2 linked regions of the Homo sapiens genome follow. The protein of the gene in region 1 purifies or fractionates together with the protein of each later gene. This does not show direct contact. Each region holds a gene or a part of one and is shown on either strand. Other genes may lie near its edges.

Region 1 (4,190 bases):
GAGGCGGAGGTTGCGGTGAGCTGAGTTCACACCACTGCACTCCAGCCTGGGCAACAAGAGCGAAACCCTGTCAAAAAAAAAAAAAAAAAAGTGCACACTGAGGTTCACAGGAAAGAACCACTAGCAGAGTGGTGAGAGAGATTTACTTTTGTTATGAAGGATAACTTTAATTATCTTACAAAAGACAGTTTTCAGTATAATAAGAGCACAGAAGTTAAGTTGTGGATAAAAAAATCAAAGACATCACTGTTTGCCTTTGATATTTTGATGAAAGCAGGTGATGGTCAGGGAAACTAACCCATGGTAATTGGATGAGAAGTGTGTAAACAGCAATAGGCAGCCACATCTGATCATTGCTTATTCCTGCTGGGCCTTCTCAGATCTTTTTGGTAATCTTTTTGTAGAGTCTAGTTTCTCCTGTAAGCTGTAAGCAGACCTGGGTCCTTTTGTGAGTCCCAGCCTTTGTCCTCTTGCCCCCTATGAACAGAGGTTTCCTTGGGGACAAGTTTAGGACTGACGTGCACCAGCCACTGGCCATAAAGGTACTGGGCTGCACCCCTACAGCCTGGGGTGTTTGGCTGTAGCCTCAGCTTTTGGCTTAGGGAATCCCTGGACTGGCCAATGGGATGCTGCTTCTAGTTCATCCTTTGACTACTTGGCTGTTTCTTCACCTCTTCTTTTTCAGGGGAATTTGTTGCAGGATTCGTTCAGTTCCGGGTGTTTAATAACGAGAGAGCAGCCAACGCCCTTTGTGCTGGGATAAAAGTTACTGGCTGTAACACTGAGCATGTGAGTTTTTGGGGAGATCAATGGCCCACGTGTGGGGAAAAGAAAGAGAGATCAGATTGTTACTGTGTCTATGTAGAAAAGGAAGACATAAGAAACTCCATTTTAATCTGTACTAAGAAAAATTGTTTCTGCTTTGAGATGCTGTTAACCTGTAACTTTAGCCCCAACTCTGTGCTCACAGAAACATGTGCTGTAATGAATCAAAGTTTAATGGATTTAGGGCTGTGCAGGATGTGCCTTGTTAACAATATGTTTGCAGGCAGTATGCTTGGTAAAAGTCATCGCCATTCTCCATTCTTGATAAACCAGGGACACAATGCACTGCGGAAAGCCGCAGGGACCTCTGCCCAAGAAAGCCTGGGTATTGTCCAAGGTTTTCCCCCACTGAGACAGCCTGAGATATGGCCTCATGGGAGAGGAAAGACCTTACCATCCCCCAGCCTGACACCCGTAAAGGGTCTGTGCTGAGGAGGAGTAGTGAAAGAGGAAGGCTTCTTTGCAGTTGAGGTAAGAGGAAGGCTTCTGTCTCCTGCTCATCCCTGGGAATGGAATGTCTGGGTGTAAAGCTGACCACTCCCATTCATTCTATTCTGAGATAGGAGAAAACCGCCCTGTGGCTGGAGGCGAGATATGCTGGCAGCAATACTGCTCTGATACTCTTTGCTACACTGAGATGTTTGGGTAAAGAGAAACATAAATCTAGCCTATGTGCACATCCGGGCACAGTACCTTTCCTTGAACTTATTCATGATACAGATTCCTTTGCTCACATGTTTCCCTGCTGACCTTCTCCTTACCTGTTGCCCTGCTACACTCCCCTCACTAAGATAGTAAAAATAATGATCAATAAATACTGAGGGAACTCAGAGGCTGGCACCGGAGCAGGTCCTCCGTATACTGAGTGCTGGTCCCCTGGTCCCACTGTTCTTTCTCTATACTTTGTCTCTGTGTCTTATTTCTTTTCTCAGTCTCTCATCCCACCTGACGAGAAATACCCACAGATGTGGAGGGGCTGGCCCCCTTCACCATGTGTGTGCATGGGTATGCACATGTGTGTACCTGTGTGGGGTGTATCAATGTGTGTCTCTGTGGTTACTCGCTTACTCTCATTCTGTTTACTCTCATTACTCTCCTGATGATGTCTTATGAATATAATTTATTTTTTATTTCTTTTTTTTTCTTTGAAGAGTCCTTTTCTTTCTTTTTTTTTTTCTTTGAGACAGAGTCTCGCTCTGTCACCAAGGCTGGAGTGCAGTGGCGCGATCTCAGCTTACTGCAAGCTCCACCTCCCGGGTTCATGCCATTCTCCTGCCTCAGCCTCCCGAGTTGCTGGGACTACAGGGGCCCACCACCACGCCCCACTAATTTTTTTTGTATTTTTAGTAGAGACGGGGTTTCACTATGTTAGCCAGGATGGTCTTGATCTCCTGACCTCGTGATCCGCCCGTCTCGGCCTCCCAAAGTGCTGGGATTACTGGCGTGAGCCACCACGCCCAGCCTGAAGAGTCCATATTTTTAATAAAAATTAAGTGGTACAAAGTTTGGAGTAGTAGATGCCAGAAGTTGAGTATAATTTATTTGTCTTTTAAATCTTATGTATTTATTTATTTATTTTTTGAGAGGGAGTTTCACTCTTGTTGCCTGGGCTAGAGTGCAATGGCAGGATCTCTGCTCACTGCAACCTCTGCCTCCCGGGTTCAAGTGTTTCTCCTGCCTCAGCCTCCTGAGTAGCTGGGATTACAGGAATGCACTGCCACACCCGGCTAATTTTTTTGTATTTTTAGTAGAGATGGGTTTAGTAGAGATGGGTTTCTCCATGTTCTCAAACTCCTGACCTCAGGCAATCTGCCCACTTTGGCATCCCAAAGTGCTGGGATTACAGGCATGAGTCACCGTGCCCGGCTGAGTATAATTTATTTTAATGGAATTCAGTTTATCAAACTTTTCATTTATGGTTAGTACTTTTAATGTTTTCTTTAAGATGTACCTCCTTACACCGAGGTCGTGAAAATATTCTCCAATATTAATCTTAACTTTTAGAAGCTTTATATTTTTATTGTTTTTCCAGTCTTGTAGGAGACAGCACCACAGTTGTAGTGGTGGGAGATTGTATTTGAGGGACATCCTGTGCCTAGGGGTTGGAGGAAGAGAGCGTCAGAGCCATCAAGAACAAGGGCATTCACTTAGGGCCCCCTTCCCTCCCCAACTGACAGTCTGAACTCACGGTTCCATCTTCCCTGCCCCAGCTTTCAGCTTTTTCATTTTCCAGCTAAGATGAGGCAGCTATTCTCTCATGGAGGGACTCGCAGATTAGAATTCGGAGGATGACGACCACGTGGGCAGTGGGGGTGGACTAGAGTATATGTCTTTATGCCCTTTTCCTTGACAAGTTTCTCTACTGGCTCTGTGCTCCTCAGACTGTCCATTAGTGCGTGTTTGTGTATGTTCCTGCATGCATTACTACTTTAAAATACATGCATAGGGCCAGGTGTGGTAGCTCACACCTGTAATCCTAGCACTTTGGGAGGCCGAGGCAGGCGGATAACTTGAGGTCTGGAGTTCGAGACCAGCCTTGCGCTCACTGGTGTCAGCAGCAAATCAAATTCCTCACAGTGTTTCTTCTTTCTGTTTCCCAGCACTGCATCGGTGGAGGAGGGTTCTTCCCACAGGGCAAACCCCGTCAGTGTGGGGACTTCTCCGCCTTTGACTGGGATGGATATGGAACTCACGTTAAGAGCAGCTGCAGTCGGGAGATAACGGAGGCGGCTGTACTCTTGTTCTATAGATGAGACAGAGCTCTGCGGTGTCAGGGCGAGAACCCATCTTCCAACCCCGGCTATTTGGAGACGGAAAAACTGGAATTCTAACAAGGAGGAGAGGAGACTAAATCACATCAATTTGCAACTCTATGTTTCTTTGAATTCTTTTTATAAATTGGCTGATGTGTTGAGGGATATTTTAAAAGAATACCTATGGTTCTGGTGAATTCCACCTCACATATTCTGGGCTTGCACAGTGGCTAGGAAGAACCCATTGAATAAAAATAAATGTTCACTTCAGCAACACATATACTAAAATTGGAACAATACAGAGAAGATTAGCAAAAAGATATAAAAAAATTGAAAAATAAAAAGACATTCTGGGCCAGGGATGGTGGCTCATGCCTGTAATCCCAGCACTTTGGGAGGCCGAGGCAGGTGGATTGCCTGAGGTCAGGAGTTTGAGACCAGCTTGGGCAACATGGCAAAACTTCATCTTTACAAGAAGTACAAAAATTAGCTAGGAAGTAATGCGTGCCTGTAGTCCCAGCTCCTCAGGAGGCTGAGGTGGAAGGTTGGCTTGAGCCAGGGAGGCAGAGGTTGCAGTGAGCCAAGATCTCGCCATTGTACTCCACCCTGGGT
Region 2 (3,845 bases), on another chromosome or scaffold:
CAGTTTGCCTGAAACAAAGCTTTAGGAAGGTGCAAGACTCTAATCATTCCCCTACAACATTCAACTCCTTCCTGTGTCTCTGCCATATTGCCTTCAGAAACATCAAACTTTTGGATCAACTCTATGCAAACTACCTTCCCTAGTCCTACTTCCATGGTGATGAACATTGCTGGAGAATGCCACAATCTCTAATGGTAGCAACACTAGAGAACTATAGTGTCTGTGTTTGTCTGGTGCATCAGCACTGCTAAATCATTTCCTCCCATTTTCCCCAAAAGGCTATCTTCTCAGCATCTATACCTCACTTCTACTTTTCTTGCTCCCCTCTACACCCATCAGAAGATGATCTTGCCTTCTAATTCACATAATTTAGGCCATGATACGTGAGAACTTCTTCACTTTCCTGCCCTATGCCTATAAAACTCATAAATATCTTGCTGTTCTCTCTTCCTGTTTAAGACCAGTCTCTTCACCTGTGTTTTATATCTACATCTTCTCTGTCCCTAGGGTCTTTCTTCTCTTTTATTTTTGTAAAATAAACCTCTTTCTAATCCCTGGCTGTATTCTTCCTGTCTATAATATTGATTGATATCTCATGTATTAAAGAATCTCATTCTTAACCTAGGGTACCCTTGAAGCTTTCTTTATTAGTTTATCTCTCTCCATTCCTAGCCAGATAGTAAGGAAGGCTGGTTTAGATTTTCTGTCTCCACTTCTCAATTTCCCTTTTATCTGGTTACTGTCCCCATCACACAACTTAACTGAATCTCTTACAAAGATCAGTGACAACTCAAAAATTCCAAGTCATTTCAGAGGGAGCCATAGTGATGTCATGGTCACATGATCAATTCCTCTGTATATTTTATATCTATGTTTTCTCCCTTTCCAGGGACTGTCCTGTCTTAGTCATCACCTTTTATTCTTGTAACATAAACATAAACACATTTATTTGGGTTATTTCTGGGCTATTGTTCCATGGACTTCCAAACCACTGGCTATCCAGGATCTTAGGCCTTATGGCCAGAAGAAGAAAAATAAGCCACGTTAATAAAATTCTCTTTCTCTTTGTAACTTGAAATAGGAAATATTGAGATATCCTACTTAGAAGTAGGAACTAAAATGTGAATATTGTGAGATGAGAGGAGCCAGACAGAGGCTGGAGCATTAATAAGGGCCACGTGCAAACTAAGCTATAAGGACACAGGGACTGTGAGTAAAGAGAGCACATCTCAGGGAGGGAACAGTACAGAGAAAAGCAGGGTTGCCATGAGAAGCAAAGACCGGTTTTTAGGGCTGCCTGCTTTTGCTGTGCCAGTTCTACTTTATATTTATTCTTGCATTGACTTTCTTATTTAAGGAAGGAAGAAAACATTTATTGAGAACCTGGCCAGGCATGTTTCCTTCCTTTAAGGAAAAAGGAAGTCAATGCAAGAATAAATATAAATTAGAACTGGTGCAGCAAACTAAGGCAGCCCTAAAAATGCAAGAATAAATATTGTGAGTGGAACCCTGTTCTTTGCAACCAAACAAAAGCCTATACCGCCATCCAATCTCATCTTTTGCCACTTCTTTATCCTCACTCTGGCCATGTAGAACTAGTACTAGTTCTTTCAACATAACGAGCTCTTTTTGGTAGTCCCTGTGCCTTCATAAAAGCAGTTCCTCTAGCTGAGAATGTTTCACTCCTGCCCTAATTTCCATTCACTTGGCAAGCTCTTCCTTCAAAATGTTTAAGTGGCTTCACTCCTCTCCCCCAATAATTTGATATGATAATTAAAAGAATTGTACAGAAAATATCTTTATACAATATAAAATCAGCCAAAATTTTACTTTTGTAAATCTTTTATTGGAGACAAAAGCAAACTTCATCACTTTTTTTCACAGTGATAGTAATTGTTTGTTTTGATATTTTTCTCCACTTTTAGGCCATGTGCTATTTTACTGCTGTTGAAGGAATAAGTTGTATCTTCTTTAGCTTTGTGTCTTTAGTATCTTAGTCAGTGCCTGGCACCTTTGTGAATAATAAAAGGTATGAGGAATTCGAAGTAAGTTAGGTATCTTTGTTCTTTTTGTTGCTTTAGCACTTCTATTATAATACTTATAGTCACTTATTATATAGTGTAGTAATTATTAACTTCTTCAAACAATGTCTCTGTATTGTTTATCATTCTATCTCCAGTTTCTGGCACGTTGGAGGTTCTCAGTACATTTTTTTTTTAAACGGGGTCATGCTCTGCTACCCAGGCTGGCGTGCAGTGGTGTGACCTCAGCTCACTTCAACCTCTGTCCCCCAGGCTCAGGTGATCTTCCCACCTCAGCCTCGCAAGTAGCTGTGACCACAGGAGTGCACCACCATACCTGGCTATTTTTTTTTTGTATTTTTTGTGGATATGGGGTCTTGCTATGTTGCCCAGGCTAGTCTCGAACTCCTGAGCTTAAGCAATCCACCTGCCTTGGCCTCCCAAAATGCGGGGATTACAGGTGTGAGCCACCATGCCTGGCCAAGTTCTTAGTAAATGTTTTTGAATAAATGAATGTGGACTCAAATGAAATTGAGATCTTAAGTCATGGCTGCTAACATTAATGAAGATATAGGTGTCAAGAGGAAAAAAATTAATTAAGTTTTAATCCTTTTGAGTTTGAAAAGTCATGGAAGTTTGTAGATGCAGATTGAAATCTCAGAACTGGAGAAATAGATTTGGAAAGCACTGTTGGGTCAAAGCAATAAGTAAGAAAGTAATGAAGAAGAAATGGCTGAAGACAGAAACTTGGGTATCAATAAGAGAAAGGTGAGCAGCCAGTGAAGGAAAATCAGAGACAGGAGGAAACCCAGATGGTACAGTGTCATGGAAATTAAGTTCAAAGTGATCTTCAATGAGCTGCTCTCTGGACCCTAAGCAGAGGTGGGGAGAAATCATGTGAAAAATTACACCTTACAGCAAATAGCTGACCCCTGATCTCCATTCTTATTATTTTTATCTTTTCCTATTCTCTTAATACAATTTTTCACTAGCTAGTTTCCCTCCTCCACTGGCCAATGGTAGTGAACATTATAACCCTAGACAAATGATGAAAATGCCTTCTTAAGGAGTCTACATTTGGGGGGATTACCTTCACAAATGATAAGCTTATTTGAAACAGAATAGAGAATTGGCTATTTTGAGTTTCATTTTACTTATTTGTTAAGAGAGGATAATAATAATAATTGTCACACTGGATTTCTGGAGAGATTAAACAGCATACTTTTGTAATATACTTCTTGGCATATATTAAACACTCCATAAGTGGTAGCTTTAATATTATTATTATGCAGCCCACCTATATTTAAATTTGATTATATTCTCTCTGTAGTTTTAACATTTGATGGTTTAAAATAATCAAAAACGATTTAATGTGTGAGTTCCATGAGGGCAGATATTTTTAAATTTATTATTATTTATTTGTAAAACATTTAAAGAGCATAAATGCAATTTTGTTACATAGATATATTGGAGTTAAGGTGCGGGGAGGACAAAGCAGGGTCTTGTAGGTAGGGGTAAGGACTTTGTATCCCCGCCTTCTAAGTCTTATGGAAAACCATTAGAAGCTTTTGAACAAAGGAATGATATGGCAATATTTACTTTGGAAAAACATCTTTCTGGTTGTTGTGTGGAGAATAAACTGCAGGGACAATAGTGAAAGCAGAGAGATCAGTTATTGTTGCCACAGGTAGGAAGTGATGATGGCTTGGCCTAGAATGGTAGCAGGAGGGTGGTGAGAAAGGGTAAGATTTAGATGATGTTTTGAAGGCAGAGTGGGCAATATTTGCTGAAGGAGTGGATCTGGGAGGTGATAGAGTCAAGGAT

Evidence for each region.
Region 2: the proteins of ITLN2 (region 1) and OPRPN purify together in Homo sapiens (affinity purification with mass spectrometry; one large-scale study listed by BioGRID and IntAct). This does not show direct contact.

What each region holds. Positions count from the first base shown.
Region 1 is NC_000001.11:160,944,528-160,948,717, reverse strand, and holds the end of ITLN2 (intelectin-2 precursor), read left to right. Parts: exon of another isoform or gene 1-67; intron 68-685; coding exon 686-789; intron 790-3,425; coding exon 3,426-3,578; 3' UTR 3,579-3,693; downstream 3,694-4,190.
Region 2 is NC_000004.12:70,404,440-70,408,284, reverse strand, and holds part of OPRPN (opiorphin prepropeptide isoform 1 precursor), read right to left. Parts: intron 1-3,845. UniProt on the Homo sapiens protein: Opiorphin is an endogenous inhibitor of neprilysin and aminopeptidase N. Inhibits the breakdown of substance P, Mca-BK2 and Met-enkephalin by neprilysin in vitro with IC(50) values of 29 uM, 33 uM and 33 uM respectively.